Linked DNA regions of Homo sapiens: regions 1 and 3 are each reported to be linked to region 2. The links are microRNA targets in miRTarBase. Many come from high-throughput screens and were not tested one by one. Region 2 holds a microRNA gene; each other region holds the end of a gene's coding sequence.

Evidence for each region. Region 2 holds the annotated microRNA hsa-miR-33b-5p (GUGCAUUGCUGUUGCAUUGC, at 1,194-1,213, opposite strand). A microRNA usually pairs through its seed, bases 2 to 8, with sites in the 3' UTR of a target mRNA and lowers its output. Matches are read on the target gene's strand: a 7mer-m8 pairs with bases 2 to 8, a 7mer-A1 pairs with bases 2 to 7 and ends in A, and an 8mer does both.
Region 1: miRTarBase lists ABCA1 as a target of hsa-miR-33b-5p. Seed matches in the 3' UTR shown: 8mer at 351-358, 8mer at 356-363, 8mer at 366-373 and 8mer at 1,691-1,698.
Region 3: miRTarBase lists ITGBL1 as a target of hsa-miR-33b-5p. The part of its 3' UTR that is shown has no 7-base or 8-base seed match.

What each region holds. Positions count from the first base shown.
Region 1 is chr9:104,780,341-104,784,530 of GRCh38, reverse strand. It overlaps ABCA1 (ATP binding cassette subfamily A member 1), which reads left to right. Exons shown (of 50, transcript NM_005502.4): 50 at 76-3,525. The coding sequence ends at 216. It also overlaps a transcript of NIPSNAP3B not described here. Among named protein-coding and RNA genes, the nearest start is that of NIPSNAP3B, 18 kb to the right of the region's middle.
Region 2 is chr17:17,812,704-17,816,899 of GRCh38, forward strand. MIR33B (microRNA 33b) reads right to left here and starts at 1,228; the gene lies at 1,133-1,228. SREBF1 (sterol regulatory element binding transcription factor 1) reads right to left here. Exons shown (of 19, transcript NM_004176.5): 10 at 3,754-4,015; 11 at 3,504-3,670; 12 at 3,157-3,325; 13 at 2,518-2,626; 14 at 2,132-2,241; 15 at 1,912-2,044; 16 at 1,542-1,707; 17 at 866-1,066; 18 at 665-776; 19 at 1-148. MIR6777 (microRNA 6777) reads right to left here and starts at 842; the gene lies at 777-842. RefSeq lists an enhancer at 54-612.
Region 3 is chr13:101,714,812-101,718,969 of GRCh38, reverse strand. ITGBL1 (integrin subunit beta like 1) reads right to left here. Exons shown (of 11, transcript NM_004791.3): 11 at 2,524-3,407. The coding sequence ends at 3,316. It overlaps FGF14 (fibroblast growth factor 14), which reads left to right. Exons shown (of 5, transcript NM_004115.4): 5 at 1-4,158. Among named protein-coding and RNA genes, the nearest start is that of FGF14, 200 kb to the left of the region's middle.

The sequences.
Region 1 (4,190 bases), not on the chromosome of region 2:
TGGAAAAATAGAACTAGAATAAAGAATGAGCAAGTTGAGTGGTATTTATAAAGGTCCATCTTAATCTTTTAACAGGTATTTGTGAACTTTGCCAAGGACCAAAGTGATGATGACCACTTAAAAGACCTCTCATTACACAAAAACCAGACAGTAGTGGACGTTGCAGTTCTCACATCTTTTCTACAGGATGAGAAAGTGAAAGAAAGCTATGTATGAAGAATCCTGTTCATACGGGGTGGCTGAAAGTAAAGAGGAACTAGACTTTCCTTTGCACCATGTGAAGTGTTGTGGAGAAAAGAGCCAGAAGTTGATGTGGGAAGAAGTAAACTGGATACTGTACTGATACTATTCAATGCAATGCAATTCAATGCAATGAAAACAAAATTCCATTACAGGGGCAGTGCCTTTGTAGCCTATGTCTTGTATGGCTCTCAAGTGAAAGACTTGAATTTAGTTTTTTACCTATACCTATGTGAAACTCTATTATGGAACCCAATGGACATATGGGTTTGAACTCACACTTTTTTTTTTTTTTTTGTTCCTGTGTATTCTCATTGGGGTTGCAACAATAATTCATCAAGTAATCATGGCCAGCGATTATTGATCAAAATCAAAAGGTAATGCACATCCTCATTCACTAAGCCATGCCATGCCCAGGAGACTGGTTTCCCGGTGACACATCCATTGCTGGCAATGAGTGTGCCAGAGTTATTAGTGCCAAGTTTTTCAGAAAGTTTGAAGCACCATGGTGTGTCATGCTCACTTTTGTGAAAGCTGCTCTGCTCAGAGTCTATCAACATTGAATATCAGTTGACAGAATGGTGCCATGCGTGGCTAACATCCTGCTTTGATTCCCTCTGATAAGCTGTTCTGGTGGCAGTAACATGCAACAAAAATGTGGGTGTCTCCAGGCACGGGAAACTTGGTTCCATTGTTATATTGTCCTATGCTTCGAGCCATGGGTCTACAGGGTCATCCTTATGAGACTCTTAAATATACTTAGATCCTGGTAAGAGGCAAAGAATCAACAGCCAAACTGCTGGGGCTGCAAGCTGCTGAAGCCAGGGCATGGGATTAAAGAGATTGTGCGTTCAAACCTAGGGAAGCCTGTGCCCATTTGTCCTGACTGTCTGCTAACATGGTACACTGCATCTCAAGATGTTTATCTGACACAAGTGTATTATTTCTGGCTTTTTGAATTAATCTAGAAAATGAAAAGATGGAGTTGTATTTTGACAAAAATGTTTGTACTTTTTAATGTTATTTGGAATTTTAAGTTCTATCAGTGACTTCTGAATCCTTAGAATGGCCTCTTTGTAGAACCCTGTGGTATAGAGGAGTATGGCCACTGCCCCACTATTTTTATTTTCTTATGTAAGTTTGCATATCAGTCATGACTAGTGCCTAGAAAGCAATGTGATGGTCAGGATCTCATGACATTATATTTGAGTTTCTTTCAGATCATTTAGGATACTCTTAATCTCACTTCATCAATCAAATATTTTTTGAGTGTATGCTGTAGCTGAAAGAGTATGTACGTACGTATAAGACTAGAGAGATATTAAGTCTCAGTACACTTCCTGTGCCATGTTATTCAGCTCACTGGTTTACAAATATAGGTTGTCTTGTGGTTGTAGGAGCCCACTGTAACAATACTGGGCAGCCTTTTTTTTTTTTTTTTTAATTGCAACAATGCAAAAGCCAAGAAAGTATAAGGGTCACAAGTCTAAACAATGAATTCTTCAACAGGGAAAACAGCTAGCTTGAAAACTTGCTGAAAAACACAACTTGTGTTTATGGCATTTAGTACCTTCAAATAATTGGCTTTGCAGATATTGGATACCCCATTAAATCTGACAGTCTCAAATTTTTCATCTCTTCAATCACTAGTCAAGAAAAATATAAAAACAACAAATACTTCCATATGGAGCATTTTTCAGAGTTTTCTAACCCAGTCTTATTTTTCTAGTCAGTAAACATTTGTAAAAATACTGTTTCACTAATACTTACTGTTAACTGTCTTGAGAGAAAAGAAAAATATGAGAGAACTATTGTTTGGGGAAGTTCAAGTGATCTTTCAATATCATTACTAACTTCTTCCACTTTTTCCAGAATTTGAATATTAACGCTAAAGGTGTAAGACTTCAGATTTCAAATTAATCTTTCTATATTTTTTAAATTTACAGAATATTATATAACCCACTGCTGAAAAAGAAAAAAATGATTGTTTTAGAAGTTAAAGTCAATATTGATTTTAAATATAAGTAATGAAGGCATATTTCCAATAACTAGTGATATGGCATCGTTGCATTTTACAGTATCTTCAAAAATACAGAATTTATAGAATAATTTCTCCTCATTTAATATTTTTCAAAATCAAAGTTATGGTTTCCTCATTTTACTAAAATCGTATTCTAATTCTTCATTATAGTAAATCTATGAGCAACTCCTTACTTCGGTTCCTCTGATTTCAAGGCCATATTTTAAAAAATCAAAAGGCACTGTGAACTATTTTGAAGAAAACACAACATTTTAATACAGATTGAAAGGACCTCTTCTGAAGCTAGAAACAATCTATAGTTATACATCTTCATTAATACTGTGTTACCTTTTAAAATAGTAATTTTTTACATTTTCCTGTGTAAACCTAATTGTGGTAGAAATTTTTACCAACTCTATACTCAATCAAGCAAAATTTCTGTATATTCCCTGTGGAATGTACCTATGTGAGTTTCAGAAATTCTCAAAATACGTGTTCAAAAATTTCTGCTTTTGCATCTTTGGGACACCTCAGAAAACTTATTAACAACTGTGAATATGAGAAATACAGAAGAAAATAATAAGCCCTCTATACATAAATGCCCAGCACAATTCATTGTTAAAAAACAACCAAACCTCACACTACTGTATTTCATTATCTGTACTGAAAGCAAATGCTTTGTGACTATTAAATGTTGCACATCATTCATTCACTGTATAGTAATCATTGACTAAAGCCATTTGTCTGTGTTTTCTTCTTGTGGTTGTATATATCAGGTAAAATATTTTCCAAAGAGCCATGTGTCATGTAATACTGAACCACTTTGATATTGAGACATTAATTTGTACCCTTGTTATTATCTACTAGTAATAATGTAATACTGTAGAAATATTGCTCTAATTCTTTTCAAAATTGTTGCATCCCCCTTAGAATGTTTCTATTTCCATAAGGATTTAGGTATGCTATTATCCCTTCTTATACCCTAAGATGAAGCTGTTTTTGTGCTCTTTGTTCATCATTGGCCCTCATTCCAAGCACTTTACGCTGTCTGTAATGGGATCTATTTTTGCACTGGAATATCTGAGAATTGCAAAACTAGACAAAAGTTTCACAACAGATTTCTAAGTTAAATCATTTTCATTAAAAGGAAAAAAGAAAAAAAATTTTGTATGTCAATAACTTTATATGAAGTATTAAAATGCATATTTCTATGTTGTAATATAATGAGTCACAAAATAAAGCTGTGACAGTTCTGTTGGTCTACAGAAATTTACTTTTGTGCATTTGTGGCACCACCTACTGTTGAAGGGTTATAAAGCCATTAGAAAAGTAGAGGGGAAGTGATTTGGATCAAAAGGAAAAACTTTAGAAAAGATTCAAATGTTCCCTTAATCATAAAAGAGAACTGAGGGGACTACTTGAAAATAAAAGGTTGTTTTGTATTTTCATGTTGGTTAAGATACTGAGTAACTGGTATTAAGTGTTAGAGGTTTTTAGATAAATATTCTGCTTAATGATTATGAAGCTGCACTGAGATTTCTGAAAATGCTCTGTAGCTGAGCTTATTTAATAAATGTTCACTTGGTATAGGGGAAGCTACAAAGGCAGCCTTCAGTGTCCTTTTGTTTATTCAACCAAAAATATAAGGACACAATGTAGCAGTTATACTGGGAAGGTGCTGGGGGTGGTGGCAATGGTGAGCAGGAAGGCGAAGTAGATATGGAAACAGAAATGATACTAATATCGGTGATTCCTTCCTTTTTTCCTGTAATAAGTGCTGTGCAGACAACATATGAGCAGTGCTGATAAATGTAAATGTATTTTTCATAGCTCATTAAGAATCAGTTTCAGAAAGAGATGTCTGCTTATTTTGCTACTTGAAGAATCCCTGTCAAACAGTCCTTTTGAGGAAGTACAAGAGGCTGTCTCT
Region 2 (4,196 bases):
TTCTCGAGTGTGCGCGCCGCCTCAGCCAGCATGCCCACGCGCTGCCCGGGCGCCGACAGGAAGCCGGGGGGCAGGTAGCAGGAGGCCAGCAGCAAGGCCTCCGCGTGCTCCCGCCGCGTGGGCCGCGGCTCCAGCTCCGCCACCGCGCCTGCGCACACGAGGATGTGTCAGGGATGGGTCTCAAGCTGGCCACGCCCCCGCGGGAGCCCTGCCCACACACAAGCCACGGCACCAGCCGCCTGTACCTGGCACACAGGTACCTGGCGGGGGCCTGGCGGGTTCCCCTCTCCCCACCCTAGTCTCAGCCCACACACAAAGTCCACAGACTGAGTCACGCACGTGCAGTCATGTATCCCACAAATGACAGTCACCCCACTGATTCCTTGTGAAAGGAATTGTCATCAGGTAACCATCAAGAAGATGCTTGGTCTTTTTTTTTTTTTGAGACAGGGACTCTCCCTGTCACTCAGGCTCACTGCGGCCTCCAACTCCTGGGCTCAAGCTGTCCTCCCAACTGAGCCTCCCAAAGTGCTAGGTGTGAGCCACTGCGCCAGGCCTGTCTGTCCCGTCTGACACACACACAGCCTCCCTTGGTATCACATCCCATGTGCGCCCTTCCCTGCTGAGCAGACAGCACATCCCTGGTCAGCAGCTGCCCCCTCACCTCCTTTGCCACCGGGGCCTGCCCGCCGCCTCAGACTGCGGTCGAGGAGCTGGTGTGTCCGTGTGGGGCTGGCCCCCGCCATCAGCCGGGCCGTGGCCTCATGTAGGAACACCTGGGGGCCAGGAGAGTGGAGGCTCAGGGCTCTCCATCTCCACCACTGCCTGACTCCCCGTCTTGAGGACAGGGCCATCGGGCACTCACCCTCCGCATGGCGGGCCGGAAGCTCTGTGCCAGCCGCCTCAGGCTGCTCAGGTCCCGTTGGAAGCCACGCAGCTCAAGGGCGGAAGCCTGGGGCCTGCTGCTGGTGCCCTGGGCTGCTGGGGCCGGGGCCGGGGGCTGCTGCTGCCGCCACAGGCTGGTGCGCACCACAAGAAGCAGGTCACACAGGAACAGCTGCACGGCCTGGGGGTGGCAGGCAGGGCAGGGGTCACCAGGGCTCCAGCTCTGGGAGGGGCAGGATGGGGGCCCGTGGTGCCAGGGGCCGGCTCCGGGCTGCACTGCCGAGGCACTGCACCCGCCTCACACACGTGCAATGCAACAGCAATGCACCGCGGGGCCGCCCGCCTCTCTCGGCCCCCACACCCGCCACCGGCCCGGGAGCAGCTGTCCAGCCCTCCTGATGCAGGGCCTCCAAAGGGATCCTACCACACCATCCACCCCCCTCCTCCCAGGGATGGGGAAACTGAGGCCAGATAGGGGCAACCCCTCTCCTCTGGACAGAAGCCTTAGCCAAAAAGCAGGGTCTGCTGGACCCCCTATCCTGTGCTGCTTGGGCTAACCCCATGGTCTTCTGCAGCCCCTGGGGGCTGGGGAGAGGAACCAGGGAATGGAAAGCTGAATCCCCCAGCCCTGCCAGGCCCCTGACCCCACCCCTCACCTTGTCAATGGAGCTGCTGGCTGGTGTGGTAGCCAGGCTGTCCTGCAGGTACCCACTGGCCTTCTCACAGATGGTCAGGCTGGCTGGACCAGACTCTGCCTTGGCACAGCCCAGCAGGGCCCGGGCAGCCTTGAAGGAGTGCAGAGCTGCCCTGGGCAGGGGTCTCCTGTTGGGACCAGGGCAGAAGAGTGCCAGTCAGACCAGTCCACAAGCCCTGGCTGAGTGCCCCCCACTTCCCTGGCTCGAGTTCCCTGAGGAAAAAAGGTGGTGACTCCTCCTGCACAGAACAAAGGCTGAGTGAGGCACAGTGCCCAGGGGATGAGGAAGGCTGAGCCCGGGACCAGGCAGGAGGAACCTGCCGTGCACTCACTCAGACTCCTGCAGCACCCGGGGCAGGTGCTCCACCAGCGGGCACAGCCGCTCAGCCGCCTCCTCATCCCGCCGCAGCCAGTGGATCACCACAGCTGTCAGAGAGGCCCACCACTTGGCCACCGGGTCTACGCCTGCAGAAGAGGGAGGGTCCCCTGAACCCTCAGTCACGCTGCACGGGGGAGCTGAGAAGGGAGCCAGGACAGGGGCCGGGGACTCACCGGTGGTGGTGGCCATGCTGGAACTGATGGAGAAGCTGTAGGCAGGAGCCCCCGCAGCATCAGAACAGCTGTTCAGCAGCTGCAGGTACCCGAGGGCATCCGAGAATTCCCTGTGGAAGGAGAGAGCTGGCTGTCGGAACAGATGGCAGGGGTCCTAGGAGGGTGCTCCCCACCTGCCCTCCAGAGTACAGCCTGGCCCCTGGCTCTGCAAAGTGCCACTGTCTCCTCCCACAGGCTGGTGGGGAGAGGAAACTCAGAGAGGAATGAAGCGTGCATGGCACGCACGGTAGCCCAGCTCTGGGCTCTCTCCACAGGGTTGAGGCCAGAGCTATTCTCAGAATCCCGCCGGAGGGGCCTTGCCTGGAGGAGGGCACAACGACACTTACTTGTCCCCATCAGCTGACCCAGGGCTGGGGTTGGGCTGGGTCACACAGTTCAGTGCTCGCTCTAAGAGATGTTCCCGGAATAGCTGAGTCACCTGGGCCAGGGGGTCCACTGTGGAGAGGAGGAGGTGAGTGGGGTGGGGAGCAGGGCCCCACCCTCCTCTCCAAGCTAAGGGCTTTTTCCTGGGTGGGCTGGGGCCACACCTAGGGCCACTGGGAAGTGCCGGCATGCCCCTGGGTGCAGCCCCTGCCAAGGACAGGGGAAAGCGGGTGGACATAACTATCACCAGCACCAGCCTTGGCCAGGAGACAACACTGAGGCCTGCCCTACACTGCTTCCAAAGGAAAACCGACTTGAGAAGATGCCATTGTTGGCTCCGCTTCCTTACTCCACAGCGGCACTGCCTGGGGTCACTTCTCCAATTAGCCATCTGCCCATCAATCCCTGCATGTGCTTCTGAAAGCCCCAATGGGAACGAGAGGCACCCAGGCCTTTCCCTTCCTGCAACCCCCACAGCAACAACCCATGGCAGGGAGAAGGACTGGGGTGGCCAGAGACAGCCAGAGATTCAGGCGACAAGGGACAGGACAGGAATGAGGATGAGGGACAGGAGAGGGGACAGGGAAGGGGTAAGAGAGCACCTGGGTTCCCGGCCAAGCTGTACAGGCTCTCCCATGGGGTACTGAGCACGGACCAGTCCCCATCCACGAAGAAACGGTGGCCCACGGGGTGGCAGAGCCACTGCATGGCAGGAGGCACTGAGCCACTCTGTGCCAGGCAGGCCTGGCGGGCACTGCTCAGGAAGAAGCGCTGTAGGGGAGGGTACTGGGCTGTCACAGTGGACACAGCCTGGGGCCAGACCCCGGGCCGAGTCCCAGCTTGGCCTGGAGTCCCCCTGGTAACCACTGCCACATCCCGTGTAGCTCTTACCCAGGGAGCCTCTGGAGAGAGCTGCAGGGATAAGCCCCCAGCCCCCCAACCCACTCACTGTCAGAAAATGCAAGGCCCGTGGGAGACTGGTCTTCACTCTCAATGCAGCCGCCACATAGATCTCGGCCAGCGTCGCCACAGACACGGCATCCCCTGCACACTCTGCCAGGTTCAGGGCACTCAGCGCCAGGTTGGTGGCAGTGAGGTGCCCGCCTGTGTGCTTCCCTGGAAGGCAAGCAGGCATGAGGCTGTGGGTGGAGCACAGGCAGCAGGGAGCACCTCGGAGCCCGCCCCACGCTCAGTCCTACCCATGGTGTGCAGCTGGTGCAGCTTATGGTAGACCAGGGCTGCGTCTCGGGCGCTGGCGCTAGCATCCACTCGCAGAGCACAGTCCTGCTGCAGGCCCCCTGCCCGGCCTGCCAGCCAGCGGCCCACCCAGAGACGCTGCAGCAGGTGACGGATGAGGTTCCAGAGGAGGCTACAAGCCAGGTCCAGGTGGGAGGTGGGCAGGGGCCGGCCCAGTGCCCGCAGGGCCAGCCACAGCTGCTGGGCAGCCTGGGCAAAGTCTCCCTGTGGATGAGGGTTTTCCAGGTGAGAAAAGTGAGGTCAGAGCAGCTGCCCCAAAGCTCAGAAGAGCCGTCCACAGCAGGCTCTGGAGGGGTGGTGGGGGTCTGCGGATGCGTGGCTAGGCACAGGGAGGACGGGACAGATTCATGGTGTGCACAGGGAGCAGGAACAAGGGTTGACACCC
Region 3 (4,158 bases), not on the chromosome of region 2:
CAGGCATATCAAAATCCAGGATGTACATGGTCTTACTTTGAGTGAAATAGTAGTCATAGCTGAGGTTTCTTAGCCTACAATGTGACATAGGGCCTGTTGACTCTCTTGAATATGGAGTAGGGTTTCAAAGTGTTGACAGTTGAGTCTGCAAACTAAGGCTGAGTTATATTTTAGTTTTTTTTTTTTTTCCTGGTTTTCACTAAGTCTAATTCCAATGTCTACTGGCAGAGATTGTGTTTGCATTTGAGGTAGTGGAGGGCGGTACTTTCCAAGTGCTGTTGGAATCCAGATAAACTCAAGGAGCCCAGAAAGACAACGGGTATAATGGCTCTCCTCTTATGACTTAGCACTTTAGTTGACTTTTTTGAAAAAGTCTCTGGGTGGAATACCTCAGTGATGATGATTTGCCAAACAAGCAGCGTTAGTGCCAACACCTTCTCTAAACTTGCTGCATCCCTTCCAATTGACATTAATCCCACTGCAACTTCCTAAAAACAGGAATGAGCCAATGAGATTTGCTTATTTTCTCTCACCCATTACAAGTAAGTTTGTTCTTGCCCTGCTTGTTTTTTAGAGGGAGTTTCTATCATAGAGTTGAAAATCACATTTAAGAAGGAAAGAGTTTATGTCTTTACATGTAACTATTTTATTTTTTCCAATCTAAATTCAATCACTTCTTAATAGATATATTGGTGTTTGCATTGCTGGCATCAAAACCACACATACACACACAAACACACACATACACACAAACATAGTGGACAGAAATAAGTAAAAATATTTCTGTTTTCAAAGAAAAAGCATTCCTTAGAGTTTAGGTACCATTAACTTCTACTATAATACAGTTCCGGTACTATGGTTTCTAACTAAATGAACACTAGAACAGAGCTGACTATATTTTCATCTTTGTCCAAAATTTTAGATGAATCACATTTTGAACTTTTTATGGTATGATAATTTCTCCAATATCTAAATTCTTTTTCTGAGAAAACAAATGCCGAGGACATTTTTGACACTCTTCTTACATGAGACTATGAAAAAGAGCAGCACTTTTGTTGTAGTTGTTGTTGTTAATAAAAAGGATAATAACATACAGAGGATTATAAGAAAAATAAGACATACCTGAGGTTTTGTGATGAGCTATAGAGAATCAAGGGCAGTTCCAGTGGAGCTGAGGCTGACAAAGTACTGCCCAGCTGCCAGCCAAATCCACCCTTAAGTTGCTTTTGTATGGCCTGGGAGCTCAGAAGGAATTTTTTAAATTTTTTTTACAGCTTTAAAGTATTAAACAGAAACCAACAAAGAAGAATATGAGACAGGGACGTACGTGGTCCGTAAAGTTTAACTTTCTGATCCTTAATAGGAGGATAAGCGCCGTGATAGAGAAATCCAAAGGTCATTTGTATTACGATGGCTAGATAATGTAATGAATTCCAATGTCTGTGCATCAGCGAATACGTCATCAAAATTGCTACAAAACAATAATAATAGGTTGTTCACAGCTTAAAATGTTTAGGTAGTGAAGAGGAAAGAATATAACCTACATTATTTATTGACTACTTATATTTCCCTCATTTTACGGAAGAGATCTATCAATTTACGTACTCAATAATAGAACTACAACATGGTTGCACTCCTTAATCTCAGGATAGAGATAACAATTTTTATAAATCTATTACATTATGAGAACATTGTTAGTACTATAAAAATCAGGATCAGTTAAATGTTCTCTTAAAATAATTTTCAATATTAAATTTTTAAGTAACTCAGTGGATGCATATTTTCCTTATTTTTGGAAATTTGACTTATAAAGTTTAAGCCATGACTAGAATATTTACATCATTAAAATAAAATTTCCAAGTAAAAATTTTCATCTTAAAGTAATACGGAAATGATTTTGCTACATTATTCTAGGATTTTACAAAGTAATTCACCTTTAGAAAAAAAGTGGTTTTTTTTTTAGCTCTAAATAATTAAAGGTTGCCTAAACTAATGTGTATAAGTAGATTTACCTGTAAATATGTAAGGGAAGTCCCAATTATTGTACACTTTCATAATTCAATGTGAATTTCATACAAAGCAAAGTTTCACCATTAAGAAAATAAACATTTTGTTCCTATCACTGAGTGAATATTTGTAATTTCTATTTAAGCCATTTCTAGATTTTTTTTTTTTTTTGGTCTTTTGTGAGCTTCTGAGATTGGTGCCATTTTATCACAGTATTTCTCGTCTTGACTTCTTTGCATGACCCCAGGTTTCCAGTAAGTAAGGTATCCTTAGAAAAAAAAGTATTTTAAGGGAAATGGATGCATACTTCAGGCCCATTTTATATGTAACTCAATATTGTCTTTTTAAAAGGCCACACTACCATGGAATAAATTAAAATAAAAAATCAGATTTCTTGTACGCATAACCCCTGCCCAGTTTTAAAAATGTGATCCCTTATTTCTAGAAACCTAAAATAGATATCCCTGAATAACAATTCATTTTTAATTATCAGTAGATATATATACTGACACAGAGTATAAACAACTTCTGTCACTATTTATTTAAAATGTTAAATTGTACATTTTTCATAATTTCTTTAAGAGAATCTTCTTTGGTGAGTTTAAAGTGAGAGTAGACAAATAACTTAGTGGCTAAATGATTTAATGTCAGATGACTTAATGACCAGTTTTTGCCCTTGATCCAGCCCCACTCTGATATTCTACCTCCTGTGTGCTTGTCTTCATTGTCCCCATATTAAAATGGTGACTGATACGGAATTCTGGAAAAATCTGATCGATTAATTAATGTGAATATGCATGTTTTCCTTAGATTCTAATATGGTCTTTCTTGTGTAAGAATGTGGATTTCTAATAGCCATATAACTCAATGTTTCTCAGTTTGAGCCCTATTGGCATTTGGGGCTGGATAATTCCTTGTTTGGGGGCTGTCCTGTACACTGCGGGATGCTCAGCAGCATCCCTGGCCTCTACCCACCAAATGTCTGCAGCATACCTTCCTACCCGACCCAGTGTGACAATCAAAATTGTCTGTAGATGTTGCCAAATGACTTTTGGGTGGAAAAATTGCTCTCGTTAGGAACCACTTATGTTAATTATGGAAGAATCTTTTTTTTCTAATGTTATTTGCATCTAAATTTGCATAACTCATTTCTAATAGGTACTCGGATTTCATTCGTAATTCAGAAATAGAAAAACATACAATGGTCTTTTTAACCTGTCCTAGTGGTGAATATACATGGTTTCCTTCGCATTTATCTGTTCTAATGGCCCAGAAAAAATAAGAATCCAGACCTCTCTCATGTAATTGTTAAGGATATTCTGAGCCAAGCCAGATTTCACATGCATTTCCATTCCATCCATCCCAGCATTCACAGTTTCCACAGCTACATATTCCATTCCCTGCAATAAAATACATATAGGTATCATGATTATGATCAAAATGTGCCAAATTTAAACATGCTATTATAAATCACAAGTGTCCACAATGAAATCATTTCATTCATCCTTGGTAGATTTTCTTATTGTGCAATGATGTTATTATTACATCTTATTAAGCAGCTGCGAGACATCTAATCTTTCAAACAATTAGTGGCATTTATTTGGTGCCACCCTTTACCGATCAGATAGTCACCATCCTGTATCACTCCAGCTAGGCTTTTAGGTGACAATTTTGTTTTCCCTTAAAGAGCAAGTTATATCTGACTTATGAATAAATACAGAAAAACATAAGGCTCTTTGACATAACATGAGGCAGGCCAAGTAATCCGTGAAGAGAGTCTTACGTAGTAAGGATGGGCAGAAAGCAAAGGTCTAACTTAATGACACACAAAGAGTCATCTTTTACCTTCAGCTAGAGCTGAGGAGAAGTATACATGTCTCTGTTTCCTCGTAACTTGGCTAAACAAATGAATTTATAACCAATTATGAGGACTCAATAAATTAGGATAGCAGTGGCTATGACACGGCTGAGCCCTCTTTATACCTCTCCCCCATACACACATCCAGTTCCCTAAAAGCAACCAACACATCAACTAGTGGTACCCAGATTCTGTTTAAAAGAATATTTCATTCCCTATACCATGTTCAAAGTAAAATGGTTGCCAACAAAATTCTTTTCTGTGTTCAATATACAACTGCATACATGTGAGTT